Linked DNA regions of Homo sapiens: region 1 is linked to region 2. The links come from fine-mapping of genetic effects on gene expression. Tissue or cell type: whole blood. Region 2 holds a variant in brackets; the other region holds the start of a gene. All regions are shown on one strand. Distances are between the middles of the regions.

Region 1 (6,286 bases), 81 kb before region 2:
TCGCCTGAGCCCAGGAGTTCAAGGTTACAGTGAGCTGTGATCATGCCACTCGACTCCAGCCTGGGTGACAGAGCAAGATCTTGTCTCAAAAAAAGTGGGAACCAATACAATGACTCTTGGCAAGCATTCAACTCAACTAGTGGAAGCAGACTGACCACGTCTACAGGAGAAAAACCTTCAAGCTTCAAGCATTTAGAGAGGAAATAAGAGTATGTCAGTTAACATAAGGAGCTAAATGGAAATCAGTTAAGAGAGCTTCTATACAAGTCTTAAGGATTTTCTAGGCCAAGTGCTGTGACTCACGCCTGTAATCCCAGCACTTTGGGAGGCCAAGGCAGATGGATCACTTGAGGTCAGGAGACTAGCCTGGCCAACATGGTGAAACCCCATCTCTACTAAAAATATAAAAATTAGCCCGGCGTGGTGGCAGGCGCCTGTAATCCCATCTACTCGGGAGGCTGAGACAGGAGAATCACTTGAACCCAAGAGGCAGAGGGAGAGGTTGCAGTGAGCCGATATCACGCCACTGCACTCCAGCCTGAGTGACAGAGGAAGATTCCGGTTTTTTTTAAAGGATTTTCTACATCAGTATACATATATTTATCTCATTCTTCCTAATTGCTGCATGGCATTCCATAGAATTAGTTATTTAGACAATCTTCATTTAATGAACAAATGAGTTAAAATACTATTTCAAAAAATACTGCAATAAATATTCTAGTACAAATCTCTTCATTAATTCATCAATAAATTATTTTTCTCGAATAATCATCTGAACATGGAATTACTGTACTACACTGAAGAACATGCACATTTCAAAATTTGATACTACCAAACGGCTCACCAAAATTAAAACTATTTATGTATATTAGTACCCATTTTATCATACCGTTACTGATCTTTTTAATTTTCGCCAATCTGATAGGTGAAAGAATTCTTCCCCACTCTATTTATTTGCACTGATAATAATTGGTGTCAGCAACTTCTTTCTATATATTGGACATCCATATGACTTTTATGAATTGCCTGTACATATAATTTGCCTGGCCGGGCACGGTGGCTCACGCCTGTAATCCCAGCACTTTAGGAGGCCGAGGTGGGCGGATAACGAGGTCACAAGTTCGAGACCAGCCTGACCAACATGGTAAAACCCCGTCTCTACTAAAAATACAAAAGTAGCCGGGCATGGTGGCACGCGCCTGTAATTCCAGCTACTCAGGAGGCTGAGGCAGGAGAATCGCTTGAACCCGGGAGGCGGAGGTTGCAGTGAGCCGAGATCACGCCACTGCACTCCAGCCTGGGCAACAAGAACAAAACTCCGTATCAAAAAAAAAAAAAATACACTTCTCATGGAAGGCAGCAGCAGGATGTAATGGTACAAATTCTGGATACACAGTAAAGGAATAGATGATCAGTAAATTCGTACTGAGTTTCTAAAACCTTCCATTGCACCCCAATCTGTCTGGTTCCCATGCTGCTCCAGGATGCCAGCTTGACCTCCCCAGCCAAGAAAAAATAATGACACAACACTGCACCTTAAGTATGAAATTACTTTGAATACACTGCTTAGCTTAATATATTGTTTCCTAAAGTGTTCCTAGGGTACAACTGGCGGTATGCAAGATGATTTTAATGGTACGAAAACGAACATTTTAATGACTAGTGCTTTTATTTCAACTTACATAAACAATTATAAGTAGCCCATGAAACCCACGGTTTCATTTATATTGCTTAGGTCGAGACTAATGCATTTAAACTTTTTAAGTAAGTCAATTTAAAGAGAACTATTCAGAAAACAATAGTACAATTGATAAGAGATTGCAAAAATAGTGATGGCACGGGATTGACTTAAAATTGTATATGCCTCTGGAACAAAGAGGTTTGTCCATACCCTATACATCCCTCCAACAAAGTGAGTTGCCTCCGACGGAGTTGAAGTCGCCACCTCTGACTTCCCCAACAGGCAGCCAACTTGCCACGGGACAAAAGGACTAGACAGGGAAACACAACTGGCCCTTGGTTACGCCAATGGCGTTGCAGCGCGCGGGGCACAACCCTCGGGGTTAAAGAGCCTCCTCGAGGAAGAGGCTGGGACACAGCTGAAAGAGATTGACCCACAACCACTCTAGGGGCCATCACCTGCCCTTCTTCAGTCCTGGGCGTGAAGGTAGATTTCTCCCCTAGCCTGTGCGGGAGAGGAGCCCTGGTTTTTCTAACAAGGACTACTGTAGGTTCGCCGAGTTCGAGGGACGCTACGTATGCAGCGCCTACGCCCGGACACAGGCTTCCGCGTTACCGACACCGCGTGGGGGAGGAGGGCAAGACCCGAGGCTTGCAGAGATGGGGGGTGCACGGTGGCCACAGTAGGGAAGGTGCGGAGCATGATGGTGCTCTGTAGGAGCGCAGACGCTGAAAGGCGCGCTGCTGTGGCTGGGAGAAGAGCGGAGCCAGGAGTTTGTTCCCAATATCTTAGTGCTATGGCAAAAGAAGGGGGAGGAGTAATTGTGGGGCCCCCCACACACCCGCTGCGGCGATACACTCACCCTCGCCAAAGTCCTTCCGGAAGTCTAAGTTCGAAGATGGCGCCGCCTGTCTGGTCGCGGTCTTATGACGAAATCTTGTTAGCTGCTCTTCACTGACGCCCCCACCCCAGTGCACAAGGTAAACACGTGTGCTTGGTCCGGAGTCGGTGCCGGGCTAGTTTTCTCTTAGACTCTGTATTCCATAATGCAGCGCGGCCAGAGTCACCGAGCCCTCCGAAGCCAGCCGAGTTCCAGGGCGTCTTCAGCGGCGCCAGGGACGCTGCAGGGCCTCATGGGAGTTGCAGTGTCAAAAAGGGGAGATCGACGCCTGCGCGGCCAACGGGATCCCACGCGGCCTCGACGGGAGCCGGGAGTAGGCGGACTCCCAGGCCGGGCTCGCGCTCTGGATCCCTGAATCCGGCCTTTCCGGCCGGACTGCCGCGCCTGTGGCCGGAAGAGCCAGCTAGACCAGAGAGTCTGTACCTGCAACCCTGGCGGCGTCCGAGCCCAAGGCGGAGTCTGGGAGACAAAGAAGTCCTCGCCGCCGGCCGCTGGAGGATTCTGCCAGTAGTGAAGTCAGGGATGGGCCCGAGAGAGCTTGGAAAGAGGACAAGGAAGGGAAGGAGTAGGAGTAGAAAAGCATGACTTTGGCTGGGTATGGTAGCTCCTGTCTGTAATCCCAGCACTTTGGGAGGCCAAGGCGGGGGAGGATCACTTGAGCCCAGGAATTCGATACCAGCCTGGGCAACATAGTGAGACCCCGTTTTTATTTTTATTTTTATTTTTTCCTGAGATGGAGTCTTGCTCTGTCCCCAGGCTGGAGTGCAGTGGCGCGATCTCGGCTCACTGCAAACTCCGCCTCCCGGGTTCAAGCAATTGTCCTGCCTCAGCCTCCCGAGTAGCTGAGATTACAGGCGCCCGCCACCAAGCCCGGATAATTTTTGTCTTTTTAGTAGAGAAGGGGTTTCACTATGTTGGCCAGGCTGGTCTCGAACTCCTGACCTTGTGATACGCCTGCCTCAGCCTCCCAAAGTGCTGGGATTACAGGCATGAGCCACCGCGCCCGGCCTAATTTTTTAATTTTTTCTAGAGATGGGGTCTCGTTATGTTGACCAGGCTGGTCTTGAACACCTGACCTGAAGTGATCCTCTTGCCTCAGCCTCCCATAGTGCTGCGATCACAGGTGTAAGTCACTGAGTTTGGCCATTATTCCATTTCTGTACACAAAAACCTTTCTCATTCTGTGCTATAACTAGTTAGCATTTAATTGGGTGGATGTGGTATAACTAGTGCCTTGTTGATATTGATGCATATTTACATGGTTTTGCTGTTATAAACAATGGTCCCTTGCTATTATAAATCACACTGCTATAAGTAACCTTGCATCTAAATTACTTCAAATGTGTAACTATATGGGTAGGATAATTTCTAGAAGTGGAATTGTGAACCAAAGTTTTAGGTGCATTTGTAATTTTGATTTATAACCAATCTTTTCACTGATCTACTTCTCTGCCTCTAATTTCTACTAGGTGTTTGTTTGTTTGTTTGTTTGTTTTGAGACAGGGTCTTGCTCTGTCACCCAGGCTGGAGGACAGTGGTGCAATCACGGCTCACTGCAGCCTCAACCTGCCACCTCAGCCTCCTGAATAGTTGGGGTGTGTGGCAGGTGTATACCACCACTTCCAGGTTTTTTTGTTGTTGTTGTTTAATAGAGATGAGGTCTTGCTATATTGCCCAGGCAGGTCTCACACTACTGAGCGCAAGCGATCCTCCTGCCTATGCCTCCCAAAGTGCTGGGATTACAGGTGTGAGTTGCCATGCCTGGCCCGGTTATCTTTCTAAAGCATAAAGCAACCCTGTTGATCCTCTGCTTAATTTTGATGATTAAGTAGTATGTTCAAAATATAGAAATCCATGTATTGATAATGATCTTTTAAAAAAAGTAAAAGCCAAAATATCAGCTACTCATCCTACACCATTGAAAGTAGTGACCATTAAACTGCTCTACCTCTACCTCCACCTCTCTACCTCTCTACCTCTCTACCTCTACCTCTACCCACGGTCTCCCTCTCTTTCCATGGTCTCCCTCTCATGTGGAGCCGAAGCTGGACTGTACTGCTGCCATCTCGGCTCACTGCAACCTCCCTGCCTGATTCTCCTGCCTCAGCCTGCCGAGTGCCTGCGATTGCAGGCACGCGCTGCCACGCCTGACTGGTTTTGGTGGAGACGGGGTTTCGCTGTGTTGGCCGGGCCGGTCTCCAGCCCCTAACCGCGAGTGATCCGCCAGCCTCGGCCTCCCGAGGTGCCGGGATTGCAGACGGAGTCTCGTTCACTCAGTGCTCAATGGTGCCCAGGCTGGAGTGCAGTGGCGTGATCTCGGCTCGCTACAACCTACACCTCCCAGCCGCCTGCCTTGGCCTCCCAAAGTGCCGAGATTGCAGCCTCTGCCCAGCCGCCACCCCGTCTGGGAAGTGAGGAGTGTCTCTGCCTGGCCGCCCATCGTCTGGGATGTGAGGAGCCCCTCTGCCTGGCTGCCCAGTCTGGAAAGTGAGGAGCGTCTCCGCCCGGCCGCCATCCCATCTAGGAAGTGAGGAGTGCCTCTTCCCAGCCGCCATCACATCTAGGAAGTGAGGAGCGTCTCTGCCCGGCCGCCCATCGTCTGAGATGTGGGGAGCGCCTCTGCCCCGCCGCCCCATCTGGGATGTGAGGAGCGCCTCTGCCCGGCCGCGACCCCGTCTGGGAGGTGAGGAGCGTCTCTGCCCGGCCGCCCCGTCTGAGAAGTGAGGAGCCACCCCATCTGGGAAGTGAGGAGCATCTCCGCCCGGCAGCCACCCCGTCCGGGAGGGAGGTGGGGGGTCAGCCCCCCGCCCGGCCAGCCGCCCCGTCCGGGAGGGAGGTGGGGGGGTCAGCCCCCTGCCCGGCCAGCCGCCCCGTCCGGGAGGTGAGGGGCGCCTCTGCCCGGCCGCCCCTACTGGGAAGTGAGGAGCCCCTCTGCCCGGCCACCACCCCGTCTGGGAGGTGTGCCCAACAGCTCATTGAGAACGGGCCAGGATGACAATGGCGGCTTTGTGGAATAGAAAGGCGGGAAAGGTGGGGAAAAGATTGAGAAATCGGATGGTTGCCGTGTCTCTGTAGAAAGAAGTAGACATGGGAGACTTTTCATTTTGTTCTGCACTAAGAAAAATTCTTCTGCCTTGGGATCCTGTTGATCTGTGACCTTACCCCCAACCCTGTGCTCTCTGAAACATGTGCTGTGTCCACTCAGGGTTAAATGGATTAAGGGCGGTGCAAGATGTGCTTTGTTAAACAGATGCTTGAAGGCAGCATGCTCGTTAAGAGTCATCACCAATCCCTAATCTCAAGTAATCAGGGACACAAACACTGCGGAAGGCCGCAGGGTCCTCTGCCTAGGAAAACCAGAGACCTTTGTTCACTTGTTTATCTGCTGACCTTCCCTCCACTGTTGTCCCATGACCCTGCCAAATCCCCCTCTGTGAGAAACACCCAAGAATTAGCAATAAAAAAATAAATTAAAAAATAAAAAAATAAAAAAATAAAAAAAACTCATTAAGCTCTAAAAAAAAAAAAAAAAAAGAAAGAAAAAAAGAAAGTAGTGACCAATTCCTGAAAATTGGCAAAAAAAAAAAAAAGGCAAGAGTAAGGCATTTATCTTGTCTTTCCAGTATGAACTCTAGTTCAAAATAACTGATGAGAGGAAGGTTTTGTTTGTTTTTTGAGACTGAGTCTCACTCTGTCGCCCAGGC
Region 2 (6,417 bases):
CCCTAAGGTAAGTAGTACCTGGTTAGTTTCTTACCCATATTTCCTGATGTAGTTACTCCAAACAGATTTCAGGGCACTACTCTTCTGTTCTATTCTGCCTCTCCCCACTTTCTTTGAATCATATACTGTCAAGATTAGGGCCCCTACGGGTCTTTTAAAGGGTGCGTCCTAATGCCCTAACCACGACACTTATCTCCTACCTCTTTCTCCTAGTGCTTATCCAGCTATTTAAATCATCAGGCATAATGGAGATTCAGAGTGTGGGGATTATCTTTATGGTGACCAGCAGGAGACCTGGCCCTTGCTCCTCTTAACCCTTGGGTTCCCCCTGCCCTTAATTTCCCAGTGGCCCCTCTAACAGCCCAGTGCCCCCACAGCTACCTGCACTCCTGTGACCCCCCCATCATCCATGGGAACCTGACCTGTGACACCATCTTCATCCAGCACAACGGACTCATCAAGATTGGCTCTGGTGAGGGGAGGGAGAGGTTCTGGGCAGGGGAGCCTCGGGAATTTGGGAACCATGGGGGTAAGATGAAAGGAATGGGGGATAACAGAGCAAAATTCTGAGGTGTGGGCTGGTGAGAAGAGAAAGGACCTTGCTAGGAGTAATTAATAGGAGAGGCCAGTTAATTAGTGGAGAGGGGGTAGGATATATAATCTTACACCTTTTTGAAGGGAAAATTGGGGTTAATACAGAGATACTGATAAGAGGCTGGGAAAGGGCAAGAGATAGGTTTGAGGTTTGATTTGAGTCCTGGGGCCAGACCCTGCCAGAGGAGGTTCCAGGCTGTTCCTGCTGTGAGTGCTTTCGTTTGCTGTGTATTGTATGCAGTGTACAACATTTCTGTGTGCTGTGTCTGTGTGGTATTTGTGTGTCCATTTGTCTGGGGCTTGGCTGCTCCATCGCTCACAACTTTTCTCTGTTTTCCTCCCTCCCGCTTACGGGCTGCTCTGTTCCCAACAGTCTTTCATAGGATTTTTGCTAATGGTGAGAGCTCCCTCTGCCCCACTTGGGGCTCTGTTTGTGCTCCCTCTGCTCCCTTGGCGGCTGCCCAGTGCATGCAGTCGTGGGAGCAAACCCTCTTCCCCTATCTTCCCTGCCTAATTATGCCTGCTTAGCTTCTGCCCTGCCAGCCCTCCGCCTGCTTGCCCCTTCATAACCTGCTTGTTTCCTGTGGATTCTGCCTGGCTGGCCACTTACCTCCTGGATTCATGTTCTCCCTCATCATCAGGCTAGTTCCCAGATCATACTGTGCTCCCAGATTCTCTGTGACTTGTAGTCATTGTTTATGATCTGAGTGAGTCCAAATTGGGCCTGGTCCTGGTTCCTCGTTCAGCTCTGTGGCAGACAGTGTTGAGGAATAAGGGGGTAGAACAGGAGTCTAAAATGTTTTGGTGGATTAAAAGTGGAACAGATTCAAGGGTATTAGCTCAATTCTGAGCTGTTTTGAGTTTCACTCAGCAAAGGTGGGTAAGAAGGAGGCTACCTCCTGAGCTGTATGTTAATACTTCTTATCCTTATTTATCCAAGTTCCTGAGGTCTCCAATTGTCCCAGATTAGGAAGGGCTGCCTGTGTTTTTATGTTATTTGCAGGGTGGATGAAAAAACTAAAACCAAATATTTTCATGTGAGCAGGGATTAGAGGTACCTGGGATTTAGGGAAGGTGAACGCAGTACAAGTGAAAATTTTTCCTTAAACTTCATTGCTTCTAGACCAGCCTGAAGCCCCTGTGTATCTGTTAATTTAGTCTGGTGCTTTTGTTGCTCCTGATTTAGGGACATTAGATGAGAAGCAGTAGGCCTAAGAAAGGGGAGGTAGGTGGCATCCATGTGTGGTCTGTAGTTCAGGACAGGAAAGGGAATATGTTTGTGCCTGTTGAGGGTCATCAGAAAGGAGACTTCAGGAGAGAATTTGGCTTTTGGGGCCTCTCTCTGGAGTGAGACTATTCTTCATTGATGATGGTCAGATTGTGGGTGTCTCCCCTACTCCCAGTGGCTCCTGACACTATCAACAATCATGTGAAGACTTGTCGAGAAGAGCAGAAGAATCTACACTTCTTTGCACCAGAGTATGGAGGTGAGCCTTCCTGCTTTCTCTGCCCTGTCCTCATCCCCCTGCTTTTGCACCTTATAACTTGAGGTACAGAGGCAATATAACTGAAACTTCTAGGCCTTCTCTACCAGCATACAAAATATTTTTCTTTTCTTTTTTTTTTTTCCTAAGGCATTCCTGCCAACCCTAGCCCCCAATCCTCTGATTAACCAAAGCCTTCTCTGTTTTCCCTAGAAGTCACTAATGTGACAACAGCAGTGGACATCTACTCCTTTGGCATGTGTGCACTGGAGGTGAGGGGACTGGAGGGGAGGGGGGAAAGGGGTCAGATGAGAAGATGGAATTGGGAATGGAGGGAAGACAAGTAAGGCGCTGGCTTGGAGGGAGTGATTGTGGGAGCACTGAAGTTCTTAGGTGTCTACTTTTTTTTTTATTCTTCCTCACTGAAGATGGCAGTGCTGGAGATTCAGGGCAATGGAGAGTCCTCATATGTGCCACAGGAAGCCATCAGCAGTGCCATCCAGCTTCTAGAAGACCCATTACAGAGGGTAAGGATCTTCAGGATCACTCCCTCCTCAACTGACCTTCAAATGTCTTCTGGTTTTTCTTCCTTTGTACCCACTGGGTATATGCTCCTAAGAGCTAGGGAACATAACAGAAAGGACACGAAAAATCTATAAACATTTTCTTAGGAGGTGCCTACCATGTTTTTGCATAGAAACACACAGGTAAGGGGGTTAAGATGGATGATGCTGGGGTTAAAAGTTGTGTGTTGGAAGCCGGGCATGGTGGCTCACGCCTGTAATCCCAGCACTTTGGGAGGCCGAGGCGGGCGGATCACGAGGTCAGGGGATCGAGACCATCCTGGCTAACATGGTGAAACCCTGTCTCTACTAAAAATACAAAAAAAATTAGCCAGGCTTGGTGGCGGGAGCCTGTAGTCCCAGCTACTCAGGAGGCTGAGGCAGGAGAATGGCATGAACCCGGGAGGCAAAGCTTGCAGTGAGCTGAGATCGCGCCACTGCACTCCAGCCTGGGCGACACAGGTAGACTCCGT[C/T]TCAGAAAAAAAGAAAAAAAAAAAAGTTGTGTGTTGGCTGGGTGCAGTGGCTCACACCTGTAATCCCAGCACTTTGAGAGGCTGAGGCGGGTGGATCACTTGAGGTCAGGAGTTTGAGACCAGCCTGGCCAACATGGTGAAACCCTGTCTCTACTAAAAATACAAAAATTAGCTGGGCATGGTGGTGTGTGCCTGTAGTCTCACCTACTCGGGAGGCTGAGGCAAGCTTGAACCCGGGAGGCGGAGATTGCAGTGAGCTGAGATTGGGCCACTGCACTCCAGCTGGGGCAAGAGAGCGAGACTGTCTCAAAAAAAAAAAAAAAGTATGTTAATTTGAATGTGTCTACATGGAGGTAAATTAATTTGATGGTTACTTCAGGCCATTGCTGTATACTCTCAGACAGCCATTTTTATATTTTTAAGCACATCAGTCAATTTAAATTAAACCAGTTGTTTGGGATTTTATATTTATACAGTTTTAGTTAGGGACGGTGGCCTGAAATAATGAGCTAAGATTTAAAAGACATAAGGTTATGAATCAGTTGATAGACTATAGTAAGCAGAGCCTGGGCAGGAAGGTCCAAACAAGAACAGTTTGTAACTCATTAGATAAGTATAGTAGGGAACAGGAGAGAAAAGAAGACTAGTGGGAAGTCAGGAGGATAGTGTGGAGTAAGTTTCTACTTCAACATTGAGGTGGAGTATTCAAGTGAAAGATTAGGTATGTGACCTTGTTAGCCTTCAAGGTTAAAAGCAGGAAAGCAGGTTAATTGTCATGGGACATGCAGGAGGTAGAAAAGGAGGCGGTGGTGGAACATGGTGGCTCATACTTTTAATCCCAGCACTTTTGGAGGCTGAGGTGGGAGGATCACTTGAGCTCAGGAGTTCGAGACTAGCCTGGGCAACGTGGTAAAACCCTATCTCTATGAAAAAATAAAAATTATCTGGGTATGGTGGCACATGCCTGTGGTCCCAGCTACTCTGGAAGCTGAAGTGGGAGGATTGCTTGAGCCCAGGAGGTTGAGGCAGCAGTGAGCTGTGATTGTGCCACTGTACTCCAGCCTGGTTGGCACAGCAAGACCCTGTCTCAGAAAAAAGAAAGAAAGAAAATAAGGCAGAATCGTTAGAGGAATCCTGGGAAATTCGGTGAATTCAGTGATTGTGGGCAAAGGAAATTGTGATACTAGGCTTGTGAAATAAAAAAATGGTGAATATTGATCACATTGGGTAAGTTTGGGAAGAGAGAAGCTAAATTTGGCAAGATTTAGAAAAGAAGATAGGCAGTGAGTTGACTAATAAAGCAGAGAGGTAGAAACTAAGGAAAAAGAAAGTGTGGGGCCGGGCGCGGTGTCTCATGCCTGTAATACCGGCACTTTGGGAGGCTGAGGCGGGTGGATCACGAGGTCAGGAGATTGAGACCATCCTGGCTAACATGGTGAAACCGTCTCTACTGAAAATACAAAAAATTAGCCGGGCATGGTGGTGGGCACCTGTAGTCCCAGCTACTCGGGAGGCTGAGGCAGGAGAATGGCGTGAACCCGGTAGGCAGAGGTTGCAGTGAGCTGAGATTGCGCCACTGCACTCCAGCCTGGGCGACAGAGCGAGACTCCGTCTCAAAAAAAAAAAAAAAAAAAATTGTGAACATTAAAAAAGAAAGCTTGTGGTTGGAGAGCAGAAAAATAATTAAAACCAGAAAGGCAGTGGATGGTATCTTTCATATAATATCTTACAGTTTTTGAAGCCCTTTCAGGTGCATTTTTCAATATATTGTTTTCTCAGCAAGTGCTGAGCACCTACTATGTACAAAGCCTTGTGCTAAGTAGAATGAGAGCTATAAAGATGAACACACTGGGGGCTTGCCAGATGCCTGCTCCAGTTCCTTGTTTCCTTTTCTAGGAGTTCATTCAAAAGTGCCTGCAGTCTGAGCCTGCTCGCAGACCAACAGCCAGAGAACTTCTGTTCCACCCAGCATTGTTTGAAGTGCCCTCGCTCAAACTCCTTGCGGCCCACTGCATTGTGGGACACCAACGTGAGTCGTCTTGGCCCTATGGGGAATAGTCTTCCAATCTGGAGCCCTGTAACTATCACTGGCATGCTTGTTTTCCTCTTTATTTCCAAAGGGATTCTTTTTTTTTTTTTTTTTTTTTTTTTTTTTTTTTTTTGAGACAGAGTCTCACTCTCTCTCAGGCTGGAGTGCAATGGCTTGATCTCAGCTCATTGCAACCTCCAGCTCCCAGGCTCAAGCGATTCTTGTGCCTTAGCCTCCCGAAGAGCTGGGATTACAGGCATGTGCCACCATGCCTGGGTAATTTTTGTACTTTTAGTAGAGATGGGGTTTCGCCATGTTGGCCAGGCTGGTCTTGAACTGGCGTCAAGTGATCTGTCCGCCTCGGCTTCCCAAAGTGCTGGGATTACAGGCATGAGCCACTGTGCCAGGCCTCCAAAGGGATTCTTTACCCCTTTGCCTGCATGCCTTCTTTGACATTTAATCTGACTATCCCTTCATAATATCCCACTCCATCATGCCCTCCAGACATGATCCCAGAGAACGCTCTAGAGGAGATCACCAAAAACATGGATACTAGTGCCGTACTGGCTGAAATCCCTGCAGGACCAGGAAGAGAACCAGTTCAGACTTTGTGAGTAACTGAGAGGGTCTGAAAGGGGCAGATTGGTCACGACCACTCTTGAGGCTCTGTAAACTGTCCATTCTCTGGGAATGCTTGAATTTGCTATTTTGCTTGTTTCTTTCCTTCCATCTCCTTTCTCTTTTCTCGTCCAGGTACTCTCAGTCACCAGCTCTGGAATTAGATAAATTCCTTGAAGATGTCAGGTGAGAGCAGAGTGAGAAGCAGGCTTTCTTGAGGAAGCAGGCGGGGTTGGGTATCCTAAGGCGTTCACAGAGCCCATGTGACCTGTCTTCATCTCCCTCCAGGAATGGGATCTATCCTCTGACAGCCTTTGGGCTGCCTCGGCCCCAGCAGCCACAGCAGGAGGAGGTGACATCACCTGTCGTGCCCCCCTCTGTCAAGACTCCGACACCTGAACCAGCTGAGGTGGAGACTCGCAAGGTGGGGGCTGTGTGGGTGTGGATTGTCTCCATGGTTGTGGTGGAAGGGAGAGAGGACATCTCAAATAAGGCTCTATCCTTTAGAGAAAATGCTCCCTAGCAGCCATGCCCTATGGGCTCGAAAGACGTCTAGGTATTGGGTTTTTTATGGACAGGTCTCTAGAGTGACCCTCTCTTCCCTCCCTAGGTGGTGCTGATGCAGTGCAACATTGAGTCGGTGGAGGAGGGAGTCA

Evidence for each region. PIP is the estimated chance that this variant, and not a neighbour inherited with it, causes the effect.
Region 1: it holds the start of GTF3C2, and the variant in region 2 is fine-mapped to the expression of GTF3C2 in whole blood (TOPMed, PIP above 0.99).

The regions. Positions count from the first base shown.
Region 1 is chr2:27,354,196-27,360,481 of GRCh38, forward strand. GTF3C2 (general transcription factor IIIC subunit 2) reads right to left here and starts at 2,569. Exons shown (of 19, transcript NM_001035521.3): 1 at 2,544-2,569. GTF3C2-AS2 (GTF3C2 antisense RNA 2) reads left to right here and starts at 2,570. Exons shown (of 4, transcript NR_183827.1): 1 at 2,570-2,661; 2 at 3,613-3,707; 3 at 4,690-5,265. RefSeq lists enhancers at 1,963-2,576, 2,090-2,369, 2,420-2,759, 2,577-3,190, 2,770-2,899 and 1 more.
Region 2 is chr2:27,434,756-27,441,172 of GRCh38, forward strand. It overlaps NRBP1 (nuclear receptor binding protein 1), which reads left to right. Exons shown (of 18, transcript NM_013392.4): 6 at 1-7; 7 at 378-472; 8 at 1,998-2,081; 9 at 2,292-2,350; 10 at 2,507-2,605; 11 at 5,011-5,143; 12 at 5,648-5,753; 13 at 5,897-5,947; 14 at 6,050-6,185; 15 at 6,372-6,417. Among named protein-coding and RNA genes, the nearest start is that of KRTCAP3, 4.4 kb to the right of the region's middle. The variant C/T (reference allele first, on the strand shown) is at 3,115.